7 linked regions of the Homo sapiens genome follow. The protein of the gene in region 2 interacts with the protein of the main gene of each other region in a biochemical or structural test. Each region holds a gene or a part of one and is shown on either strand. Other genes may lie near its edges.

The links.
Region 1: the proteins of GJA1 (region 2) and HTRA3 interact in a test that uses a peptide from one of them, tested with the Homo sapiens proteins (one large-scale study listed by IntAct).
Region 3: the proteins of GJA1 (region 2) and GRIP2 interact in a test that uses a peptide from one of them, tested with the Homo sapiens proteins (one large-scale study listed by IntAct).
Region 4: the proteins of GJA1 (region 2) and DLG5 interact in a test that uses a peptide from one of them, tested with the Homo sapiens proteins (one large-scale study listed by IntAct).
Region 5: the proteins of GJA1 (region 2) and PDZK1 interact in a test that uses a peptide from one of them, tested with the Homo sapiens proteins (one large-scale study listed by IntAct).
Region 6: the proteins of GJA1 (region 2) and DLG2 interact in a test that uses a peptide from one of them, tested with the Homo sapiens proteins (one large-scale study listed by IntAct).
Region 7: the proteins of GJA1 (region 2) and DLG3 interact in a test that uses a peptide from one of them, tested with the Homo sapiens proteins (one large-scale study listed by IntAct).

The regions. Positions count from the first base shown.
Region 1 is NC_000004.12:8,286,754-8,290,253, forward strand, and holds part of HTRA3 (serine protease HTRA3 isoform 1 precursor), read left to right. Parts: coding exon 1-30; intron 31-3,500. UniProt on the Homo sapiens protein: Serine protease that cleaves beta-casein/CSN2 as well as several extracellular matrix (ECM) proteoglycans such as decorin/DCN, biglycan/BGN and fibronectin/FN1.
Region 2 is NC_000006.12:121,434,203-121,438,445, forward strand, and holds the start of GJA1 (gap junction alpha-1 protein), read left to right. Parts: upstream 1-1,443; 5' UTR 1,444-1,630; intron 1,631-4,243. UniProt on the Homo sapiens protein: Gap junction protein that acts as a regulator of bladder capacity. A gap junction consists of a cluster of closely packed pairs of transmembrane channels, the connexons, through which materials of low MW diffuse from one cell to a neighboring cell.
Region 3 is NC_000003.12:14,533,843-14,537,342, reverse strand, and holds part of GRIP2 (glutamate receptor-interacting protein 2), read left to right. Parts: intron 1-3,500.
Region 4 is NC_000010.11:77,916,756-77,920,255, forward strand, and holds part of DLG5 (disks large homolog 5), read right to left. Parts: intron 1-3,500. UniProt on the Homo sapiens protein: Acts as a regulator of the Hippo signaling pathway.
Region 5 is NC_000001.11:145,679,869-145,683,368, reverse strand, and holds part of PDZK1 (Na(+)/H(+) exchange regulatory cofactor NHE-RF3), read left to right. Parts: intron 1-732; coding exon 733-869; intron 870-2,261; coding exon 2,262-2,457; intron 2,458-3,500. UniProt on the Homo sapiens protein: A scaffold protein that connects plasma membrane proteins and regulatory components, regulating their surface expression in epithelial cells apical domains.
Region 6 is NC_000011.10:85,617,345-85,620,844, forward strand, and holds part of DLG2 (disks large homolog 2), read right to left. Parts: intron 1-3,500. UniProt on the Homo sapiens protein: Required for perception of chronic pain through NMDA receptor signaling. Regulates surface expression of NMDA receptors in dorsal horn neurons of the spinal cord.
Region 7 is NC_000023.11:70,493,335-70,496,834, reverse strand, and holds part of DLG3 (disks large homolog 3), read right to left. Parts: intron 3,460-3,500; coding exon of another isoform or gene 3,360-3,459; intron 1,428-3,359; coding exon 1,382-1,427; intron 1-1,381. UniProt on the Homo sapiens protein: Required for learning most likely through its role in synaptic plasticity following NMDA receptor signaling.

The sequences.
Region 1 (3,500 bases), on a different chromosome or scaffold from region 2:
GACATTGCCACCATCAAGATCCATCCCAAGGTGGGTGGGCGTGGGTGGAGGGGCGGAAGCACCTGGGGCTGGGCATGGTGGCCTCTTCCCAGACGCCGGAACCCAGAGGCAAGCTAGCCCCACCTTCCATCAGCCAGGGGGAGGAAACTGGGCCCAGGGAGGACTGGCAGCTGGCCCAGGGTCACGGCTTGGAAAAGACCTAGAACCCAGGTCTTTGGACTCCTTGTCCTGCGCTCCCTGAGCCGCTAGGTGCAGGGCAGAGCCAGGAAGCATGTGGCCCACAGTGGGTGGGCTGTGGTCCCATATCACACCCCACGGAGGCTCTTCACTGTCTTACCTGGGCCCACTACTGGGGATGCACCTGCCCCATGGGATGGCATCTGGGTTTGGGCGTGGAGGCCAGGGGGCTGCCGTGGGGAACACTTGGGACAGGGACCCCATCCCTCCACCTTCACGTCTGTACCTCCCACCAGCTGACCCAGAAGAGGCCTGCACTGAGGCCCCCAGAATCCTCTTCTTCCTCCACCGGCTGTTTCTGGAAGGCCTGCTCTCAGCCAGGCGCTGACTGCACTCCTCTAATTCTCACCACAGGCCTGGGAGGAAAGGGCCTGTATGAGTCTGTTTTCACACTGCTATAAAGAACTACCTGAGACTGGGTCATTTATGAAGAAAAGAGGGTTCGTTGACTCAGAGTTCTGTAGGCTGTACAGGAAGCATGACCAGGAGGCCTCAGGAGACATACAATCATGACGGAAGGCAAAGGGGAAGCAGGGACATCTTCTCATGGCAGAGCCGGAGAGAGAGAGAGTGAAGTGGGACATGCCACACATTTTAAAACCATCAGATCTCGTGAGAACTCACCACCATGAGAACAGCATGGGGGAAGTCTGCCCCCATGATCCCATCACCTCCCACCAGGCCCGTCCCCCAACACATGGGGATTACAATTTGACATGAGATTTGGGTGGCGACACAGAGCCAAACCATATCAGGGACCTCATTATCTTGGGATTTCAGACGGGGCAACTGAGGCTTGGAAGTTAGGTAACTCGTCCAAGATCACAGCGCACTGGAGCAGGGCTGGCCCGCTCAGCTAGGACCCCGGCCTCCCTCCAGCTTGTTCTTGTCTTGCCCAATGCCATGCTTATGTGACCCTGGGGACCACAGTTGAGTTACTTGCAGCTCCCCATGCCATGAGGTCACTGAGTCCCATGTCTCACACCAGCGTTGGACCCGGAGCTTCCCTTGGACTGGGAAGTTCACCTTGGCTGGTTTGAATTTGGCTTCCTCTCTTTCTGAATGAACGTTTACAGCATTTGTGATGAAATCTTTTGCAAGGGGGTTTCCTCTTGCCCCATCAAGGGAGAGGAGATTTAATGGTTCCAAGGAGTTCCCCTAATGGGGACCCTTCCCTGCTTTTCAGACTTTTCACGGTCGCGATTGAGTCTGGGGGCATCACCTCCATTTTAAAGTTAAGGAAACCCACTGAGGGGTGTGCTCACGGACAGGAGTTGGCAAATTTTCTTTTCTTTTTTTTGAAATGGGGTTTTGCCCTTGTTGCCCAGGCTGGAGTGCAATGGCGTCATCTCGGCTCACCACAACCTCCGCCTCCCGGGTTCAAGCAATTCTCCTGCCTCAGCCCCCCGAGTAGCTAGGATCACAGGCATGTGCCACCACACTGGCCAATTTTTTTGTATTTTTAGTAGAGACGGGGTTTCTCCATGTTGGTCAGGCTGGTCTTGAACTCCCAACCACAGGTGATCCACCTGCCTTGGCCTCCCAAAGTACCGGGATTACAGGCGTGAACCACCGTGCCTAGCCTTTTTTTTTTTTTTTTGAGACGGGTTCTTGCTCTGTCACCCAGGCTGGAGTGCAGTAGCAGGATCTCGGCTCACTGCAACCTCCACCTCCCAGGTTCAAGTAATTCCCCTGTCTCAGTCTCCCAAGTAGCTGTGACTATAGGTGCATGCCACCACCCTCAGCTAATTTTTGTATTTTTAGTAGAGATGGGTTTCACCATGTTGGCCAGGCTGGTCTTGAACTCCTGACCTCAGGTGATCCCCTGCCTTGGCCTCCCAAAGTGCTAGGATTACAGGAATGAGCCACTGCACCCCACCCCCAAATTTTCCTTCCTTCCTTCCGTCCGTCCTTCCTTCCTTCCTTCCTTCCTTCCTTCCTTCCTCCCTTCCTCCCCCTCTCTCTCTCTTTTTTTTTTTTTCAGGGTCTCGCTCTGTTGCCCAGGCTGGAGTGCAGTGGCACAATCACAGCTCACTGCAGCGTCAAACTCCTGGGCTTAAGGGATCTTCCCACCTTGGCCTTCCATATAGCTAGGACTACAGGCATGCACCACCATACCTGGCTAATTTTTAAATTTTTGGTAGAGATAGGGTCTCGCTGTATTGCCCAGGCTGGTCTAGAACTCGTGGGCTCAAGCAATCCTCCTGCCTCGGCCTCCCAAAGTGTTGGGATTACAGGTGTGAGCCATGGTGCCCAGCCAACAAATTTTCCATGAAGCCAAATGGTAAATATTTTATCTTTGCAAGCCCTGTGGTCTCTGTCACAACCACGCATCTCTGCTGTGGCAAAAATGCAGCCTTAGGCTGCACAGGTGGGTGTGGCTGCGTTCCAGTGAAGCTTGATTCACAAAACAGGCAATGGACAGCGTTTGGGCCTTGGGCCAGTTTGCAACCCCCGCTCGAGGACCCCTGTGGGAAGAGGAGAGCGAGACTAGGGGCAGGTCTGTCTCCCCTTCCGGCGGCTGTGGCAGAATGCTGGCAGGACTGGTGGGGTGGTATCCAGGTGGGCCTGAGCAGGACGCCCCACCAGCCACCTGTGGCAAATGGGTGCCAGCAGAGCTAGTGTGATTCATGTCCTGCAGGCCCTGGTCAGCACCCATGGCCATGAGCTGAGGTGGGAAACGCCCTCCTAGCCCCTAGGCATTAAATCGAGCCATGGGAAAGGCTCCTGACCCTCACCTGTGCCCCCTCCTTGGGTGCAGGGAGGATGGCTGACCCTCCCCAGCTCACGGCCTCACCTGTGCACCCTCCTTGGGTGCAGGGAGGATGACTGACCCTCCCCAGCTCATGGCCTCACCTGTGCGCCCTCCTTGGGTGCAGGGAGGATGGGCTGACCCTCCCCAGCTCATGGCCTCACCTGTGCGCCCTCCTTGGGTGCAGGGAGGATGGGCTGACCCTCCCCAGTTCACGGCCTCACCTGTGCACCCTCCTTGGGTGCAGGGAGGACGGGCTGACCCTCCTCAGTTCACGGCCTCCCAGAGATTTCAGACGTTATTTCTGCCTCTTCGGCCGGTCAGCAATGGAAAATGTCATCTCTCCGGGCCCTCACCTTCCAATGTGCAGGCCTGGTTCCGCCACCTGGCATTCTCTCTGCCATTGACTGAAGCTTCTTGAGCACAGAGAATAGAGGAGCGGCCTGAGTCTTTCCCACACCAGCGCCCGCCCACCAAGGGCTCCCGTAATCCTGTGCGGGGCTCCACGTCG
Region 2 (4,243 bases):
CAGCCACCCAGGAGGCTGAGGCAGGAGAATCACTTGAAGCCGGAAGGCGGAGGTTGCGGTGAGCAGAGATGGCGCCACTGCACTCTAGTTTGGGCAACAAGAGCGAAACTCCGTCTCAGAAAAGAAAAAAAAAAACCTGCAACATTTCAAAAGATGTTATATTAGTCATTTCAGTGAAAGTTTAATTAGGGAACGGTGTCTACCAGAATATATTTGGCATCCTTCTTTTTTCTGGTATTTGCCTGAGTGAGAAAAGTGTTAGGAATAGGAAGGCCAGATGAGTTTGCTTTCCCTCCAGAGAATACTGGCCAAGAAATTTCCTGTCCAACCTCAGGAGCATCACTGAAGCCTGTTTATGAGGAATTGTCCTACCACAACACTGTGTTATGGCATTTGGGAAGCCCTCAGAGGAGCTGCCTGCTCTAAGATTGAGGCCACATGACTCAGGCCATTATAAACCCTAATGCAGAGCCCTGAAGAGGGAGAGCATTTGGAAGGGGATAGGGAAGCACATAAAGATGATATGCTCAGCTTTACTGTCGTTGGGCAGAAAACTCTCTAGTGGGCTTGAGAGGGGGAACTGATTTTAAGGAGGGCTGAATAGTTTGGGAACCTACTTAATGCAACCATAGTCTGTATTTTTAAAATCCTCACATTTCACTACAGATTTGGGTTTTAGTGTCTTGGCATAAATAGGGCCTTAATATAAATTCTTAGTTTTCTGGAGACATGGTAGAGGTCAGATATCAAGATTTCATAGGCAAACAAAACATGCTATATATGTAAAAAATGTATATACACACACAGCCTTTTGCTAAACTGAAAGAAAGTAAAAATTCAAAGCAGTCAAGGGGTTGAAAGATGGATTGGGTATGGACTTTTCTTCATCTATGTCAATTTTTGAAATCTCTCTCCCATCTCCACCATTCCCTTTGTTAATTGTCCTTGCTTACATTTAAAGGAAGGGAATTAGATCATCAAACAGGTCACTCACACCTACCTCTAACTTCACACACCTTGGTCAATGTGAAACAAGCTTGAACTGGTTATATGCTTCCCCACCATTTTTATTTATTGTAAGCTACTTTAAAAATTTTAGACAATGTTGTAATAAAAATATACACCTTTTTCCCCCATTATCCCTGGTCTTCTGGTGAAGCAAGCAGTGTAATCAATGATTCTTATGTGTGAGGAGCAACTCCAAGTAGAGGCGTTCATGTCCCTAATGCTTTTTTATTTTTCCTCATCAGCAAATTTAAACTACAACTTTATCCTGATCCCACTGCTGCTCTTTGCCTCTTCTCCCCCCAGCCCTTCCACATTTACCAGCCTCCTCCCTACCTCCTCCCAGCCTTTCCCTTTGCCCTCCCCTTTCTTCTAGCCCCTCCTCCCAGTTGAGTCAGTGGCTTGAAACTTTTAAAAGCTCTGTGCTCCAAGTTACAAAAAAGCTTTTACGAGGTATCAGCACTTTTCTTTCATTAGGGGGAAGGCGTGAGGAAAGTACCAAACAGCAGCGGAGTTTTAAACTTTAAATAGACAGGTCTGAGTGCCTGAACTTGCCTTTTCATTTTACTTCATCCTCCAAGGAGTTCAATCACTTGGCGTGACTTCACTACTTTTAAGCAAAAGAGTAAGTTTTTAAAAAATGAGAACACGTTACCTATTAGTTTCTTTTTCTACAAGTAAAACTTTTCTAAAGTTTTAAAATGTGTTAAATGTAATTTTGAATTATGATACTGTAAATGGATTGATGGATTTGAAAGTGTTTCTATAGTTTTAAAGTTAAAATTTATTGTACCAAATATATATTTTGACTGTTAAAAAAGTTTCTATTAACATTGCAACAGGTGAAAAGGTTCAAACCTTTCCGATTAGAATAAAGGATTAGTTTACTGGATGTTTGGTTTTTCATTTTAGAGTATCATTTTATTTTGTTTTTTTTTTGTAATCAGTAATAGTCTAGGTGCTATCATTTGTTGGGTGGGGGGGGGGCGGTTAGGCGCCTGGGTTGGGGGATTTGACTGACTACATCGGAAAAATCAAAGTGCAAATTTGCTTAGCGTGCTTCCTATAGTATTCTACACTTCATAGAATAAAGTGCTTTTTTCATATGGAAATCTTGATTGATGTTCTATAGCTTTGCAAAGCCAACTTCTTTTGTGACGAAGTGCTTTGTTAAAACATCGTGGTTACTTGACTTCCACGTGGTTCCTTCCTAGAATTTTCCCCATTAAACAAAAAGGTATAAAATTCAAGAGTATTAATATTATGCTTTAAAAATCAACAGTAAATTGTTACTTTGTGTTAGCAACCGCTATGGAAAGATTTGAGACCCTCAGGAGAGACAGCTTTTACTCGACCACGTTGGCAGTTTAGGAGATGAAATCTCTTGAATGGGTGGTGGCTAGTTACAGAGCATTAGAGATCAGACGTTTAAAAAAGAGTGTATGCCAGGGTACTTTTCCAAAACCGTCTCCTAAAACGGGAGCTCCTAGAAAGAGCAGGAAAAAAACTTTCTTAAACAGCGCTTTGGGAGCTCCCCCCGCCAACACCCGCCGCCCCGCACCTTCCCTCTGCTCGAACCTGTAACAGAATTCAGAACTCTGGGGCAGTTCTTTGGAGTTGGAGCTCCTAGGGCAAAGATAACGCTAATGCGTTGTTTAAAAGGGTTCAATTTTTAAAATACTTTTATTGGTAACACCCATTCTGTTCATCAGAAATGCAGCCATGCATTTTTGTGCCCGGTAAAGATTTTCTGTTCTGTGTAAATCTACAAACTAAAATAATTAGTTTAGATTCTTGACGTGACCCTGCAGTGGAAGTATTTGCACCAGTGAATGCTGAAAAGCAAATAAAAATGAAAGCTTTGCGGAGGCCGTGGGCCGGACGGGCGCGGGGCGCCTCCTGCCATCTTAGCGTCTGCCGGGATCCTTCCCGCGCCTTCGCTGCCCGAACCAGCTCGGTCTTGGGACGTTTCCCCCAAATCCTCACAAGTCAAATCGAACTCAGGTCCGAGTTCGTCACTGCAAAGGAACCCGGGGTGCGGGGTGGGAGGGATAGGAGGAGAGATGGGCTGGGTGCCAAATGGTAGAACAAATGGTTGATTTAATTAAAGTTGTCAATCTAATTTCCCATCCCTCTCACACCAGCCCTTTTTTTTTTTCTTTTTCTTTTTTCCTCTTAAACTTGCTGAATCCCACTATCTCCGCGTTGGTAAGAAAACCTGAATACCTTGGGAATTGTGCTTAAATTGCACTTGCAACTCCCCTGGAAGTTCCTGAAACTTCCCGAGAATGAGGCGGGGCGGCTCAAGGGGAAAGGGCAGGGAGGAGAGACCCTCGGGAAGCTGATGACGCGTCCGGGGCAAGTCAGCCTGTTTCCGAGACGCGCGCCTCACGGTCGTAGCAGCGCTGCGCCCACCCTGCCCCTTTAGTGACCCAGCCAGCCTTTGCTGGGGGTTTCTGATAACGCTCATCGATAAGCTCTCCTTGCTCCCAAAAGGCGTGCTTCTCTTTCTCTCCAGGTACAAAGTAGGGGTGGGAAGGGGAGAGCTACACAATGTTGTAAAAAGAAGCGTGGCTTTATTTGGAAGACGGTTGAATTTCTTTTGCTTCCTCGACCCAGTTAGTAACGACAAGAAAGATACTGAATATCGCCCTCCGAAAATCGGGCGCATTTGAACTCGGTGAAAAGTGTCCCTGTGAGGAAGCCTAATGTTTACTTTTGTGCAAGGATAACTGGAAATTAAAGCGTCTAGTAATGCAGAGATTTCATTAAGCGAGCGCTCCCCTCCCCCCCGCGCCAGGAATGAAATAAGCCAGTTAGACAGAAAACACTTTTGGGAGAAGACTAATTACTTCTGGGTAGGCCGAATTGACTGGAAATTATACCAAGCAAAGGCAGTACATTCCATTCCGTCCTGGCGATGTTGATTCTATATTATTAGAACATTGTTCCCCCAGTGTGGGGGTGCTTTGTACTTCCCAAAGTCAGGGTAGACTGGTTACCTGGGAAAATGCAGTGTTAGTGCTTTGCTCCTACTTTCTTCACTGTTTAAACATGTTCCACATTTTTCTAATGCCTTCTGAGGGTTCTCAACCCAGCCACTGAGTTCCTCACCCTTGGCGACTGTGATACCAACAATGCTGTCACCCTCCTTGGGAAACATGGTTGCAAAGATGCTCCGCAGGAGGCAGATAAAAGGCTGTGCTTTCAGATACTGAAGGTTGCTTTGTTACTTAGA
Region 3 (3,500 bases), on a different chromosome or scaffold from region 2:
CAGGGTGCGTGTGTAAGTTCCAACAGGCGGATGGGGAAGGCCTCCCTGAGGAGGTGACATTTCTACAAGTTCCCGAAGGAGCTGAGACGGGAGTTTTGATGATGTCTGGGGAAGAGTTTTGTGGGCAGAGGGAACAGCCGATGCAAAGGCCCTAGGGGGATGTGAGTCTGGTGGGCCTTGGGTCGAAAGGACAGATGTGTCCAGGAAGGCTTCACCTCCCTTTAGAGTGCAGTTGCCAAGGTGGGGTGGGCCCATAGGGTCAAATCTCCGCTTTGTCACTTCTGGCTGTGTAACCAGGAACAAGTCACTTAGCATCTCCATGCCTCAGTTTTCCCAGCTGTAAAATGGGGAGAATAACAGTGCCCAAGTGGCAGTGTGGTTATGAGGATTAAGTGAGAAAATGCAGTGTGCTGGAGTGGAGCTGGCCAGGGCGAGCATCAGGAGGTGAAGTCAGGGGACCGGGGACTGACAGTTGTGGTGAGGACTTCTGCTTCTACTCTCCCTGAGCTAGACACAGTCTTCTTGTGACTGCAGGCAGCCGCCATTGGGAAACTGAATGGTTCTGTGGGTGACCCTGATTTTGAGGTCACGTTCCTTGACATTGCTGGTTTTAGAGTAGGGCAGGAGAGCAGGACCCAGAACGCAGAAGGCCAACCCCCAACTTGAGACTGCGCCCCCGCTCTCCCATGGTGGGATGTTGGCCTGCGTGTGGCTCAGGCCTGCTGGACAGGAGCCCCTCTCCCTGTGTGGAGGAGGATTGTGGGGGTGGCGGCCTCTCCAGGTGATGCCATGGGTCCTGCTAGCCCTGATGCACCCAGCCTGTGAGTGCCTGAGCCCTAACTTAGGTATTCTTGGGATACTGGAGCTGTCACCTTCCCAGTGCCCTGATGCTTCTCATTTGGGGTCTGTTGCCCTCCTGTTTGGAGGGAAAGAGCAGAGCCAAGGGTTCAGGGCATGGTCTGTTGTGAGGTCAGGGAGCCCTGGGTTCCAGGTGCCTCTGCAGCTCACCAGCTCAGTGGCTTCTCTGGGCCTCAGGCTCCCTATCTGTAAACTGGGGACAATCGGTGAGCCTCCCTCCATGGTTCTTAGGACAATTAACTGACTTAGCATTCATAAAGTGCTTAGAGCAGGCCTGGCCCAGGGAAGGGCCCAACACTGGGTGCTACTTATTAAGGTTCTTTATTTTTTTCTTTGCAATCCTTGGCAACAAATGAATGAGGCTTCAAATTTTTAAATGTATTGATGCATTTCTTTTTGTCTCCCTGAAAAACGTGCTTCTGCCGAGCTTATCTGATCTTTCTATGCTGCTCTCCCCATGGAAGCTGGGCTTCCTGGGAGGCTTGTCGCCCGTGGGGATTGGAACTGTCATTCAGAGGTCAGCCTGTAACTGGCTTTGAGGCATCTCCATCGAGCCCTTGGCCTGTTCCAGCCCTCAGTGGCCAGGGAGGAACGCCCAAAGGAGCTGGGGCTCTGCCTGGAGCCGAACAGCCCCGGGGCTGCAGGCATTACAGCAACTTCCAGGCTTGCATGGATGGGGGAGTAGGCAGGAAGGTACCCAGAGGGTAGGGCCAGACCCCTTAGGGAGCCAGAAGGCCTGGGCTTCAATCCTGGCTCTGCCACTTAGAAGCTCTGTGCCCCTGGGCAGTTCCCTTGACCTCTCTGTGCCTCATTAGGCCTGGGTTCAAACCCTGGCCCTGCCCTTTATCATGGGATATCACTTAACCTCTCTGTGCCTCAGTTTCCTCATCTGTAAAATGAGAATCATGATTATACCGCCTCAAAAGTGGTGAGGATTAAATGAGATCGTGCTTAGGAAGCACAGAAACCAGCACTTAATCACTAGGAGCCATCATCATGATTGATCTAGGAAAACCTTTCAACAAGGTGAGGGAAGCAGGCAGGGAGGGAACTGCCATGTTTTATGGTTTCTGTGCACACTTCCCCACAGTTCCTCCCAGCAACCCATGAGGTGGGCACCAGTACCCCCATTTTGCAGAGGAGAAGTCTGAGGCTCAGAGAGAAGTGACTTGTCCCAGATCCCTTAGCCAGTTGGCAGCCGATTTAGAATCAAAGTCCCAAGTTGGACTGACTCCAAAGCCTATCCCTCCCTTCCCACCATATCAACAATCCCTTCCATGGTGGGGCGAAGCTGGCTGGGGCTGGACCGTCACTTGGTGGAGTACTTAGCGCCCATGTCCTCTTCAGCACCCAGGGTCCCGGTGAGCTGGCATGGTCCTGGCCGACAGCTCACCGTCCCTGCAAATCATGTCCTGTTCGCCCCAAGTGGAGCCTCTGGGCATTTGTTTTCTCAGTGGTCCCTTTTGAGATGCTGAGTCCTCCCTCCAGGAGGCTCACAGAACAGGGCAGCAGTCAAAGCCGGCTGACTTTATAGTCCCACCCACTCCCCCACGCTTCTTTCCAGCCACCCGCTTAGGCAGGACCCTGGCGAAGGCAGCCTGGCAAGGAGTTGACTTCCTTTTCCCTTTGTCAAAGCTCAATAGCCCCCTGAGGCCCCAGAGAGCGGGAGATAATGAAGGCAAATTAGCCATGATTTCAAGAGAAATAAAATAAAAAAGAAGGCCACCCACCCCGGCTGCAGCGTGGGCCTGAGTACCAGGTGCACAGGTCTGAGCTCCAAGCACGTTTCTCCCTCTGTCCCTCCTCCCCTGACTTGCACACCCCACATTCGCCGGGACTGGCTGGCACCACTGCGGAAATGAATTTTCCTCTGAAGCGAGTTCCTACAGGACGATTGACTGAAGGCAAAAGCTCATAATTGCCCGTTGCTGGAAGGAGGAGACAGGGAAAAAAAAAAACATGGATAAAAATATCTCTGTTTTTTATGCACGTTTCCAGCTGAAAATTGGTGGGAAAGATGTTTTTGAAAAGCCTTCATCTCTAAGCATATAATTACCAGGTCCTGGAACAAAAAAGAGAGAGTGGGAGAGAGCAAGCATGTTCTCTGAGGAGGGGGCCTAGGGTCTGACCCCCCCAAGGGGTTTTCTATAAATAAAGTAATCCCCTCAACTTCTCAAGCTCTGGCCAGCTGGAGTCAGCCATGGGAGAGACACCCCCATTTTACAGAGGGGAAAATGGAGGCTCGAGTCACACAGCCAATTGTAATTCTAACCCTATTTTGATTCTTGGTTTGGATGCTGCCTCAGTTCCCCCCCATCTGAGGATGTTCGTGAAAGAGAGGCCCTATGTCCCCTCTGAATAGGCATCAGCAAACACTGCAGCATTCCTTCCGGGCACCTTTCTGACTATGCCAGGGGGTCTTGGGTGCTCAGAAGCCTCTCATCTGGCAACTCGCCTATCAAGAATGGCTTCTTGACTTCCACAAGAGGCCACCAAGGGCACACCCTGAGATGCCTAGGGAAGTCTCTCGAGGCCTCGCCTGCTGCCCACTGACTCTTTGCGCACAGTAGTATGACTTGTTTTGCAGCACGCAGTCAAGTCTCTGACAGCTGGGAAAAGAGATGGCTCACAGGCTGAACCCC
Region 4 (3,500 bases), on a different chromosome or scaffold from region 2:
CTGGGTATAAACCCAAAAGAAGAGAAAGCAGGGACTCGAAGAGATATTTGTACACCCATGGTGTCATAGCAGCATTATTCACAATGGCTAAAAGGTGAAAACAACCCAAATGTGTCCATCAACAGGTAAAGAAACAAATAAAATATAGAATATATATATATATATATATATGAATATTATTCGGCCTAAAAAAGGAATTTTGACATATACTAAAATATGGATGAACCTTGAGGACTTTATGCTTAGAGAAGTAAGCCAGTCACAAAAAGACAAATCTGTATTGACTTCACTTATAAAAGATACCTAAAGTAGTCAAATTCCTAGAAACGGACAACTTGAGAGGCCAAGGCGGCCAGATCGCTTGAATCCAGGAGTTCAAGACCAGCCTGGGCAACATGGCAAAGCCCCGTCTCTTAAAAAAATACAAAAACAAAAAATCAGTCGGGCATGGTGGCGGGCGCCTGTAGTCCCAGCTACTCAGGAGGCTGAGGTGGGAGAATGGCGTGAACCCGGGAGGCAGAGCTTGCAGTGAGCCGAGATCGCGCCACTGCACTGCAGCCTGGGCAAGAGAACGAGACTCCATCTCAAAAAAAAACAAACAAACAAAAAAAGGAGCTGGGTGTGGTGGCATGTGCCTATAGTCCCTGCTACTCGGGAGGCTGAGGTGGGAGGATCAATTGAGCATGGGAGGTTGAAGCTGCAGTGAGCCATGAGTACCACCGCACTCCATGCATTCCAGCCTGAGCAACAGAGTGAGACTCCATCTCCAAAAAAAAAAAAAGAAGAAAGAGAGAGAGAGAAAGACAGCAAGAAAGAAAGAAAGAAAAAAAGAGACAGACAGGAAATATTCATATAATGGTGACTGTCAAGGTCTAGGGGGCCATGTAGTTATTATTCAATAGGTACAGAGTTTCGATTTTGCAAGATGAAAAATTTCTAGAGATGGATGGTGCTGATGTTTGCACAGCAGTGTACAAATACTTAATGCTGGCTGGGCGCAGTGGCTCACGCCTGTAATCCCAGCACTTTGGGAGGCCGAGGCGGGTGGATCACCTGAGGTACGGAGTTCGAGACCAGCCTGGCCAACGTGGTGAAACCCCGTCTCTACTAAAAATACAAAAATTAGCCAGGCGTGGTGGTGGGCACCTGTAATCTCAGCTACCCGGGAGACTGAGGCAGGAGAACCCAGGAGGCGGAGGTTGTGGTGAGCCGAGATCATGCCATTGTACTCCAGCCTGGGCAACAAGAGCAAAACTCTGTCTCAAAAAAAAAAACAAAAAACAAAAAACTTAATGCTACTGAATTTGTACACTTAAAAAGTTATTAAAATAGTAAATGTTATATATATTTTTCCACAATAAAAAATGGTTCAAGGCCGGGTGCGGTGGCTCACGCCTGTAATCCCAGCACTTTGAGAGGCCAAGGTGGGCGGACCATTTGAGGTCAGGAGTTCAAGACCAGCCTGGCCAACATGGGGAAACCTTGTCTCTACTAAAAATACAAAAAAATTAGCCAGGTGTGGTGGCACATGCCTGTAGTCCCAGCTACTTGGGAGGCTGAAGGAGGAGAATTGCTGCAACTGGGGAGGCGAAGGTTGCATGAGCCGAGATCGCACCATTGCACTCCAGCCTAGGTGACAGAGTGAGACTCTGTATCAAAAAAAAAAAAGGTTCAAATGGTAAATTTCATGTTATGTAAATTATTATCACAATTTTGTTTAAATCCTCAAAGCAAATGGGTTATGAGCCTTAGTGTGAAATGAACGTCAAGGTCAACAGGAATTATCTACCAAGGGTTTAGAGGGATAGACTGCCAACATGGGACGCTCCAAACATCTCTATTTGGTTTAAAATGTTTCTGTAGCACTTTTGTGGAACGCAGTCTCAAAAAGATCAATAGAGATACACCGTTCAGAGGAATGCAGTCTATCCCAGGTAAAAGGCGAAAAAAAAATCCAATTTCCCCCCAGCGCAATCCCATTTAAGATTCTTCCCTGCTGAACACACATAGCATCCCTACTGTCCAGGCCAACACGCAGCTCAGCCCTCTTTCTCTATGTTTGCTACCTCTGTGGCTCACATCTTCCCAGGGTTTCAGGAAACGACTATAGAGCCCCCTCGCATGGGGCAGAACATACAGGTGGTTGGAATGAGGTGGGACAAAAAAAAATGAGACAACGGCCGAGAGTGGTGGCTCATGCCTATAATCACAGCACTCTGGGAGGCTGAGGTAGGCGGATCACCTGAGGTCAGGAATTCGAGACCAGCCTGGCCAAGATGGCAAAATCCCGTCTCTACTAAAAATATAAAAATTAGCCGGGGGTGATGGCACACACCTGTAATCCCAGCCACTCGGAAGGCTGAGACAAGAGAATCACTTGAACCTGGGAGGCAGAGGGTGCAGTAAGCTGAGATTGCACCACTGCACTCCAGCCTGGGCGACAGAGCAAGGCTCCATCTCAAAACAAACAAACAAAAAAAAAACTGAAACAAAATATTTATCCTACTCTGCTTACTTTTTCAGGAAATGGAAAACCAGAGTATCAAAAACCACTCAACACTAACATTAAATCAGATTAACAGCAATCCTGATGTAGAGCTGGAAGGGCCCCCAAAATCGAGTCCAACCCAATCACCCAACCTCCTTGGACCAAATGCCACCTGGGAAGTGCTCAAAACCCCACAGGAATGAGCAAGTCTCCCGTCAATGCTCAACCTCTTCTGTTTTGACTGTTGAACTGGGGGAAAAAAAAAAAACAAGCACCAGGAAGCTAAAAGGCTCTGCCAAGGTCAAGATTTTGCAGTTAGGAACAGATCTCCAGTTCAGGGCTTTTTTTTTTTTTTTTTTTTTTTTTTTTAAAGAAAAGTTCCTCAGTATTCTTTTGAGGACATCAAGTTGACATTCAAATTCTATGTGTAGAAAGGGAATGACTTTCTACTCTTAGACAGCGTGGGTGCTCCACATGGCTCCTGGCAGCCAGCTCCACACCACCAGTACCTGATGGGCAACCTTGGGAACTTCAGACATCAATGTCACACCACCTGCTTCCATCACAGACATACCGTGGGCGGTGATATCCCTGTGTACATCTGGGGCTTGCTCAAGCCTTCCTCCTCTCCCACAGCCTCTGCCACCATGAGGTCACCACTTAGGAATCTGCATGTATATTTGAAGATGATCTGGACAAGGATACATCATTCACTCTACACACAGCTGACTATTCATTCGTTCAACAAAAAATTATCGAACACCTATCTTGTACTAGGCTCTATTCTGGGCATGAGGACTATAACAGCAAATTCAGCTCAGGGAGGACAGCTCTGACACCTGCTTGGCATAGTATACAAGGAGCTCCCACAGAACCCTCAGAAACACCAGGAGATTCCCAGTTTTCTGGTTCTAAGGCTAGTTGCTGTCTACTACTGCCACTGTTGTGCTATATTACTCAGGGTAACAAAATGCTCTTCCATTTTTCCTACCATGGATTGTCAAATAGCACA
Region 5 (3,500 bases), on a different chromosome or scaffold from region 2:
ATAATGCAGTGTGGGCATGTTTTAGCGCTTTCTGGTTCAAGGGGCCAAGGCCACCCAAGATTCCATCTTTGCATTTAGCTGACCTCAGAAATTCTATTCAAATCAACAAATACCCACTGAGTAAAGGCTGTGTCAAGTTCAGTGCCAGGACCTATAACTGTGATTTTAGATCAGAAGCCAAAGGCCGAGTTAGCTCTAAAATCGGAAGTTTGTTTCACATTATTGGGAGAAAAGTCTTTACCATTGGATTTCGAGTTTTTCTTTGCAATGGAGTGTTCTGTGAAAGGGTGGTGTATGCAAAGCAGTCCCTCAAAGGCCAAAGGAGCTGAGAAACCAAAGGACAAGGCAGGCAAATCCAGTTTGTTGGTACATTGGAATTTATCAGGGGAACTTACGAACAGAAGCATGGTCTTGGACAGCCACAAAACATGTAGATCTCTGTGTTACTCCCCAGACCCAAGGCTGATATACCATAGGGAAAGGGTATATGTGCTCCAGCAAGACAATCGAAGGCAGCCCTCCGCAATAGCCAAGAATGCTATAGTGCATCATAGCCTATAATTTGCGTGATAACATTAAGGTTGACATGTTCTTAGACTAGGGACAGTAAATGAAGTAGAAATCGGGAGGCAATCACAGGACTGGGGCTAATCAGAAGTCAACATCACAGATTACCATCCAAGAGGGAGTCACTTGTGTCTCCACATGGAGTTTACCCCTACTCTCTTCCAGGTAAAAAGGGGGTGTACATGACTGATATTACACCTCAAGGTGTGGCTATGAGAGCTGGAGTTCTGGCTGATGATCACTTGATTGAAGTGAATGGAGAGAATGTAGAGGATGCCAGCCATGAGGAAGTGGTTGAAAAGGTATGCCCCAAAGGGTACTTTTCTTACCCTATCTTCCACTCTATTCTCATTGGAGGTGACAGGAAGACAGGGGTGGTAGGGGACAGCATGAGTTTATGATGGAAAAAATATCCAGTTGAGTTGCCCCTTCATATTAAGGGTGAACAGACTCACACTAGTGGTATAAGCAGTGTTAATATAGGGTTTTGGAATAAAGCCTTCCCTAGTTTCACATGAGGTCTACAAAATTATTAACTTTACCTTTTGGATCTTGTTTGTATCTGATTGGGAGCCCCCTCTGAACTGTTTGATTGAGACAGGGTCTCACTCTGTTACCCAGGCTGGAGTGTAGTGGCACAATCTCGGCTCATTGCAGTCTCGGCCTCCTGGGCTCAGATGATTCTTCTACCTCAGCTTCCTGAGTAGCTGGGACTACAGGTGTGCACCACCGCACCTGGCTAATTTTTATGTGTGTGTGTGTGTGTGTGTGTGTGTGTGTGTGTGTGTGTGTTTTGTAGAGATAGGGTCTCACTATGTTGGCCAGGCTGGTCTTGAACTCCTGAGCTCAAGTGATCTGCCCGCCTTGGCCTCCCAAAGTGCTGGGATTATGGGCGTGTGCCACTGCGCCCTCTGAATTTACAATAAGTTCACTGTTGAGCCGTTAATACTGAAATGCTTTAATAGGAAGTGGGAGATAACCGAGATTTTCCTTTGAGGTCATATGGAACCTTAAAAATTGACCAACCTTCTCTTTGTAGAATGATTTTTTGACGTGGACCCTTACTTTCTTTTCTTTTCCAAACTCCCTTTCTAGCTTTTATCTAGGTACCTTTATGGGTTTTCTGAATTCCAGCTCCTACTTGGGCTCAGTTAGCACCTATGTGGGTAGGTCATACTTAAATAAGGGAAAACAACTATAGAAGTGGAGATAGGGGCCGGGCGCGGTGGCTCACGCCTGTAATCCCAGCACTTTGGGAGGCCGAGGCGGGTGGATCACGAGGTCAGGAGATCGAGACCATCCTGGCTAACAAGGTGAAACACCGTCTCCACTAAAAATAAAAAAAAAAAAATTTAGCCAGGTGCGGTGGCGGGCACCTGTAGTCCCAGGTACTCGGGAGGCTGAGGCAGGAGAATGGCGTGAACCCGGGAGGCAGAGCTTGCAGTGAGCTGAGATAGTGCCACTGCACTCCAGCCTGGGCGAAAGAGTGACACTCCATCTCAAAAAAAAAAAAAAAGGCGATAAATACATATCAGTTAGCTGGTAGGGCATAGTGTAACAGCTTAAACTCAGGCCTTTCATCCCCTATCTTTTGTTGAACCTAGAGACTGTGTGCCTTTATACAGAAACTTTCTTATTCCCCAGCATTGTTCTTGGGGGTTGATGTCATTCCTCATCTGTGTGTGTTGTTACAGGTGAAGAAGTCAGGAAGCCGTGTCATGTTCCTGCTGGTGGACAAAGAAACTGACAAGCGTCATGTTGAGCAGAAGATACAATTCAAAAGAGAAACAGCCAGTTTGAAACTGTTACCCCACCAGCCCCGAATTGTGGAGATGAAGAAAGGAAGCAATGGCTATGGTTTCTATCTGAGGGCAGGCTCAGAACAGAAAGGTAAGGTACAAGAGCAGGAAACTTGGCAGTAACCAGCAAATTCCTCATCCCATTCTGACTCCAGAGTTCCATTAGGTTCCCAACTCCCAGCCAGATGCATGAGCGGCATAGCATAGAAGGCACAGCTGGGTCAGCGTCTATGTCACATGAGGGTCTGATGTTGGGCATCAAAAGTTTCCATAGCATTATGATAAGGCAGAATTTGGGATCTGGGCAACGGTATCCTGGTAAGTTAGCTCTCTGGGGCGGGGGTGGGGGGAAATCCAAATTGGTAGCGTTTGTTTTTGGTACCAAATTGGTAGTATTTTGTGATGTAAATACTCCTCCCATGTCCAGTTTCAACTTACTAACACGATGTCACTGAACACAATGAAGTGTTGCACAGAATTGGCTTTTGTGAGCCGGTGTGAGCCAGTATAGCACACCGCTGGACCTGAGGCCGAGGTGTGGGTGAGGATTTGGGACTCAGAACCAGGAGTCCTCCTTCCTTGCAACTCAATAGGAAGAACACTAGGTTCTTTCAGGGAAGGTAAATACATAAAAGAACATGAGTTCGGGCCGTATAAACTGCTATTCGCCCATAAGTTGTTATTTTCTTTTCACTCTCTGTTTACATTAATTTATCAAATATTAATTTGGTTTGTGTTTTGTAAAAACATCCTCAGTGCCTTGGAGAAAGAATATCATATGAAGCAGACAGGAATTCTTTAGTGAAGGAGTCTACCATTTAGTAGATAAGAGATATGTCCATAATGAAGGGAGATAGAGGTTAAGTACCTTCATACAGGGGCAGATCAAGCACTGTGATAATTCAACGTTAGAGTAAGCTTTTCTCACTAAAAAGGTACCAGAAGCCCTCATAGTAGGGGTGGCACTTGAGTTCAGGCTTTGTAACATGAATAGATTTGGGAAAGTAGACAGAGCTGGGATAAGGAAGATCATTCCAGGAAGGTGGGAATCATGTGAACACAGTCAGGAGACACTGGCACAGTTTAATTGGCACATGATGTGTAGTACAAGAATTCGTTGGAAAGGTAGGTTGG
Region 6 (3,500 bases), on a different chromosome or scaffold from region 2:
ACTTCTATTCATCTTCTGTATCTCATCTTAAATATTACATCTTCCCTAGTGGGATTGAGTGTTCCTTGTCTGTTTTCTTGACAAAGAGCGTTAACCTCACCACACAGCATTGAAATTGCCTGTTTTTGCATCTGTCTTCCTAATATATTTTAAGATTCATACAGGCAGAGATTGAATATCATTTGCTACTTCAAACATGCATCTGGCACTATGCCTGGCACATAGCAGGCACTCATAATACACCTTTGTTGAATGGATAAATGATTGAATAAATAAATGAAAGTAGAGTCATTGCCTTAAATATATACACCAGTTTACACCATATATACACCAGTTTACCTTTTAAAAGAATTTTAGCTTGTTTATTACCTATGAGAGATGTTTAAATAGAACAGAACTTAATAGGTTTATTCCAAGTATTACCATGCTTTTAATGATAAAGATGTCACAGTCCTTCAAAATGATAAGCCCCTGATAGAAGCTTCAAAATTGTATCCTAAATTAGGGCCTCAGTGGCTAGCAAAATGGTGTTACCAGAAGAAATGGGTTACAAAAATCTTACCCATAATCTTTGAAAGTTTAAATTTAATAATTCATTTTCACAGGATTTTCTACTTTATTATACTATACCATTCCTCTTGATCTTAAATCCTAAAATAAAGGAGGTCAGGAGAATCGTTTCATAATGAAGGTGATTTGGCCATAATTCTTGAAATAGCTTTGAAAACTTACTAAAAATTGAACCCATGCGGAAAGCTTATTAGTTGGAATTCAGAATGACTAACTGGACAGAAGAGACTGGATAAAACTCATGATCCTTTGCTGACAAAGCAACCTACATTGAGGATATAGAAATACTTGTGTCTTGACTGCCATAAATTCCTGGGCAAGAATTGTAGCTGGAGAACACATTCCCTTATCCCAATCAAAAAAAAAATCTCTCCCTTATACTAAAAAATATTTTGTAATCACTGACATGGTAACATAGTATTAAGAAATAAGCATATAAGGAGAATATATATTTAAGAAAGTATAGTATTCGTATAGTTCAGTAAATGTATTTTACAGAACAGTGAGAAATTTACTTATTGACAAAGGCATGAATGAACAGAATGCCTTAATCCAACATTTTAAAAACCCAATGTTTATCCCAGGCAAATTAACACAGAAACAGAAAACAAAATACCGCATGTTCTTACAAGTGGGAACTAAGAATTGGGTATACATGGACATAAAGACAGGAACAATAGACACTACGCAAGGGACTAGTGGGGCAAGGGCTAAAAAACCACCTATTGAGTACTATGCTCAATACCTAGGTGACAGAATCATTCATATCCAAAACCTCAGCATCACACAATATACTCATGTAACAAATCAGCACATGTACTCACTGAATCTAAGAAAAAGTTGAAGTTTTTTAAAAATAAATAAGTAAAATCCAATGTTTTGTGCATACCTCACTGACTAGATTCTTCTACCCACAAAAGTAAACAATAATAGGCCTAAGGGAGAAATCAAATATTCTATCATAAATAAAAACACTTGAGCAGATTTCCAAAAACCCAGAAGTTCACACATTTTCTAGTATCAAGTCATTAGCATATGCTTTGTACTCTCCCAATAGATATGTAAAATAAAATCAATTAACAGATCATTTTATCTCTACGTCTTCCTCACTAAGTTGCTTCATAGCAAACTCCTAATCAGTAGTTAAACACAAAAAGTATTCTTCTATTTCTCATTCTGGAATTCATTCTATTTATGCCTCCTGGATTAATTAATATTTTACAATATCAAGAGTCTATAGCTTATCCAAGGTCAAAATTGTCCCTACGGGGAATTTCTTTTAAAATAAAAAAGATATGGGATACCCAGGCTGGAGTTCAGTGGCACAATCACAGCTCACTGCAGTCTCAAACTCCTGGGCTCAGGCAATCCTCCAGTCTCAGCCTCCCAAGTAACTGGGACTATAGGCACATGCCAACAAGCCCAGCTAATTTTTTTAATTGGGGAATTTTAAATTAAAAAAAAAAACTTTAGTAAATTGTCTATTTTACTTTGACTTACAGAAAATGCAAAAGTTTGAAAACTGTGTTTTCCCATCTTTCTCTAGGATGATTCAGTGCTTAATTCTTTTGAGTTTTATGGCTGTGAAGAGATTAAAAAAAAAACTTGAAGTTTTGGAAAACAGAAAAAACATGTGCAGCCATATGCAGTGGCTCATGCCTGTAATCCCAGCACTTTCAGAGGTGGAGGCAGATGAATCACCTGAGGTCAGGAGTTTGAGGTCAGCCTGCCCAACATGGTGAAATCCCCTCTCTTCCAAAAATGAAAAAATTAGCCAGGCACAGTGGCAGGCGCCTGTAATCCCAGCTACTCGGCAGGCTGAGCCAGGAGAATCGCCTGAACCCAGGAGGTGGAGGTTGCAGTGAACCGAGATTGCGCAACTGCACTCCAGCCTGGGCAACAGAGCAAAACTCCGTCTCAAAAAAAAAAAGACAAGCTCTCCATATATTACTGGTATGGCAAACATGAAAATTCAAATACAAATTTGGTAAAATGCTTGCAAAAGGAATAAAATAACCACACAAGGCCACTCAATGAAGTCAGGTACAGGCATAGCTCATTTTATTGCACTTTGCTTTACTGCACTTTGCAGACAACACGTTTTTCACAAATTAAGTTTGTGACAACCCTGTGTCAAACAAGTCTATCACTGGCAATTTTCCACAGGATATATTCACTTCATGTCTCTGCGTCACATTTTGGTAATTCTCACAATATTTCAAACTTTTTCATTAGTCTTTTATTTGTTACAGTGATCTGTAATCAGTGATCTTTGATGTTCATTGTAATTGTTTTGGGGCGCCACAAATCATACCCACATAAGACAGCAAACTTAATCTGTAAATGTTGTGTGTTATCTGACTCCTCTACCAACTGGTCATTGCCCCATCTCTCTCCCTCTCCTCAGGTCCCCCTATTCCTGGAGACACAACAATATTAAAGTTAGGCCAATTAATAACTCTACCATGGCCTCTCAGTGTTCAAGTGAAAGGAAACGTTACACATTTCTCACACTCAAAGCTAGAAAATGATTAAGCTTAGTGAGGAAGTTATGTTGAAAGCTGAGATAAGCCAAAAGCTAGGCAGCCCTCTTGCACCAAATAGCCAAGTTGTGAATGCAAAGGAAAAACTCTTGAAGGAAATTAAAAGGGCCACTTCAGTGAACACACGAATAATAAGAGAGACACGCTTACTGTTGATATAGGGAAAGTTTTAGTGATCTGAACAGAAGATCAAACCAGCTGTAATTCCCCTCAAACCAAAGTCTAATCCAGAGCAAGGCCCTAACTCTCTTCAATTCTATATAGGCTGAGAGAGGTGAGGAAGCCACAGAAGAAAGCTGGAAGCCAGCAAAGGTTGGTTCATGAGGTGAAAGGAAAGAAGTCATCTTTACAACATAAAAGTGCAAGGTGAAGCAGCAAGTGCTGATG
Region 7 (3,500 bases), on a different chromosome or scaffold from region 2:
AAGACAGTGACAGGAGCAAAGAGAAGTCCAGGGACCAGTCTGCTCATGGGTGTCCCCCGCCCAACAGAGCCCCTGAAGTACAGAACCATGTGGCACTCCACAACTAAGAGGCCAAACGCTGGATGGGTTAAGCAGACACCAGGGAGCGCTGCTCTGACCATTCGGTGGGCTCCCCAGCCTTCCTGCCACCACTCCAAAGCAGGAGAGCCTGGCTTCAGTGGTGAGAGGGGAAGCATCTCCATCCACCACCAGACACATATGTCAAAACACAGACAACAAAACCAACAAAAACACCTTGAGGACAAGGCAGCCCTCCTGTCTCACACAGCTGGGATCTGCCCATCTCTTAGTGGTGAGGGAAAAGAAAGCTCAGGCGGAGGAGCAGCGCTCGTAGGAGGCACAAACAAAGCCCGCCCATCCAAGATGACACGCGAATGAAGATGAGACATGGACACACCAAACTATGGAGAGAGATGCTGCTCATTTCAGCCAAGACCACACTGTTCCAGACCATGATATGCTGTGGCCCCCCCACCCAGAAAGGACTGGCTGAGTTGCCACACATGGCTAGTTCCTGAACAATCCCCATGGGCAACTCCTTTGCCTTTGGTCTGTATTATTTATTGAAGGAGAGTATATGCTGATAGAACCCATTTGGTGTCTGTGCACCCTTGCACGCAGCAGGATGGCCACTAAGGCCTCATCATCTAGGTCTTTTTCATTTTCCACTCCAGGATTCTTTTCCAGAAAGGAAAATGAGGTTGGAGTTTTCCTGAGATAAAGCACTAACTATATATGGTCCATAAATGATGCTGAGGCCCCTAGCAGACCAGCTCAACCCCTTACAGGTGCTCTGTGGGAAGCCAAACAGTGGCTGTTTGCTGAGGCCCGGGATCTGCTGGGACATCTCAGATGCAGGTTGGGAAAAAGGGGTCACAGTACCCTTGCCCCTAGTTAGAGGACTGTTAACAGCTGCAATTCCTACACCCAATTCTTTAGCGTGGTATCACTGGGAGAAGAATCCAACCAGCAGGCACCCCTCCCTTCGACAATAGGCTAGAGATTAGCTGAGTGGTTACCTTGGAGAAACATTTCAAGCTTACTTCACTTCTAAGGTGGGATGCCATGCTCACGCCCTCCCACTTTGAGTAGCAAAAGGTAAACAAAGGCATGAATGATATGGACTTATTTGGGTACTAGGGATCCATAGCAAACATGTAACATATGGAGCCACATGCACTTCTTCCTGCTGTGATGTCAGAGTGCTCACAAACACTGCCCTCCCCTCACCCTTCACCCTCACCCATGTCCCCAATAGCCCCACCCCCACTATCTCCATTCATGCCACAAGTACAGTGAACGGTGTGTAAGTTGGACTTACTCAGGTTCTTTGCTCCATAATAATCGTCACTTAACCCCGGGAAGTCCTGATTTCACAGACAGCAAGGGCGGAGAGAGGACGACGGGGAGAAGAGGGGGGAAGGGGAAGGGATGGGAGGGAATGGAAGAGAGGGAGAGATTTGGGGAGAAGAGAAAAAATAGAGAAAAAGACAAGGGGGGAGGAAGAATACAGAGGTAGGTGAGCACTAGTGACAGAATTATGAAACACCATGAAGACCTAGCACTATAGTGAGGCCAGGAACTTTGCCACAGAAAGAACATCCCAGGGCAGATAAGACATCAAGACTTCATGCTGCCCAATTCATTGCCAGAGGGCCTTGGAGTAGACTAGCTTTCTGAGGTGTCTACAGCTGTAGGCCAATGGGACAGGACAGGTGACACTCCAAGGCTTAGAGCACCTGCTTTGACTAAATTTTGGTTGTGGAGCCCAGGTCTCTGTTTGCCCCTGAAATCACCATTTCCCTCTGCAGTGCGTGAAAGAGCAAATGTCCGCGTGTGCCAGGTAGGCAGATAGAATTGCCATCACCTCAAGAAGCCTTTGCCCAATACTGATTCACTCTGTTCAAACCCTTCAGGAAAAGTTTCGCATGGTGTAGAGTGTGGCCTCCAAAGCTGCCCTGAGCTGGACAGATCTTGGGGGATGAGCTCAGCTTCTGGAGAAGCACTAGGCACCTTCAACTCTGTCATCCAGTAGATACCCCCTCGCCCACCAGGCGGGACCACTGAGCAATGAACACCTCCCCAGGCTGGGCTTGGCATGGAGGGACTCTGGGACTCATCTGATGAAACTATGGTGACATCACCTCAGGCCTCTGACTCAGACTGTCTCCTAACTGCTCATGAGCAGAGCCACCCCGTCTATGGCTTCTCATTGAACTACTCCAGGATGATGAGCCGTGGCTGCCATCTAGATGAGGGCACCCTTCTGTCCACCAGGTACCACCCCAGATAGCAATGACTTACACATACCATGACTGTGGACCAAGCTGGCCTGACAGAAGGACATTTCCTATCAGAACCAGTCAGTCTCCTGCCAGCCCCAATAGACCAAGACCCCAAGATCCCTCCATGTAAGACAGAGGAGTCACTGGTAAATGAGAGATGTTTACTGTTCATGATGAGACAAGTGAGAAGACATTTTTCAAGCCAGACCTGGTGTTTAAGGTTAAGGTTGGAGCAGTTAATTGCTGAGGCACACGGTAGAGCAAGAAGATTTATCAGGATTAAATTTCTTCTTCCGTTGAATTTAGCTCAGTGTGACTGCTCTTCCTACCGAACCAACTTTGTGTTTCTCAATAGATCTTTATTTGAACAATGTGGAGCAACACTCCTTCCATGTCAACTCATTTAAGCAGGAAGGATTCTCCTGGGAAAACTGGCTCTGTAGGCACTCTAGGATGACAGCGAGTCTGCTGAGAGTTGTGTGGATATCCTGTATGCTTATGCACGTGCATGGGATTCCAGAAGTAGCCCCAACTCCAGGGATCCTGGGAAGAAAAGGCTCTTCTCTTGACATACATGAGTGAAGTTAAGGGAAAGAAAACACAAGAGGAAGAAACCAGGAGAGCAACACTGAGTCCCTAGACCTTGTTCTCTTGAAAAACCATTTTCCTGACCCTGACAGTCTAGCTAAAAAACCGTTCCTCACCACCACAGCAGAGCTCTGTCTGGCACTTCCACTGCTAGTGCCAGGCACTTCCTGGAGGCTGACCCTGGGACCAGTCCCACCTCAGTGCCTCCAACATTCATTCTAACTGAGGAGCAGGACAAATAAAACCCAACATCTCCTTAGGCAGACCAGTTTCTGCCCTGACTCTGTAGATAAGCAGGTGCACACGCACACAGGCAGGCACGAGGCCACACGTGGCCCTGCCCAGGCTTCTCTCGAGGGAAGGGCAACTGAGGATGAGAGGATGGGGCTGCAGATGGCCTGCTCTCTGGACTCTGCTGCTACTTACGTTCCTGTATGCTGCTCTCCTGGGCCATGTTTTCTTTGCTCTTGTAAAATGGAAACTTTCGAGAGAGGCGGAAACTCTTTTTACGTTTCGTTTTGATCGACTGTGAAAGAACATGAAGATGGAGGGGAAGGACAGAAGAAA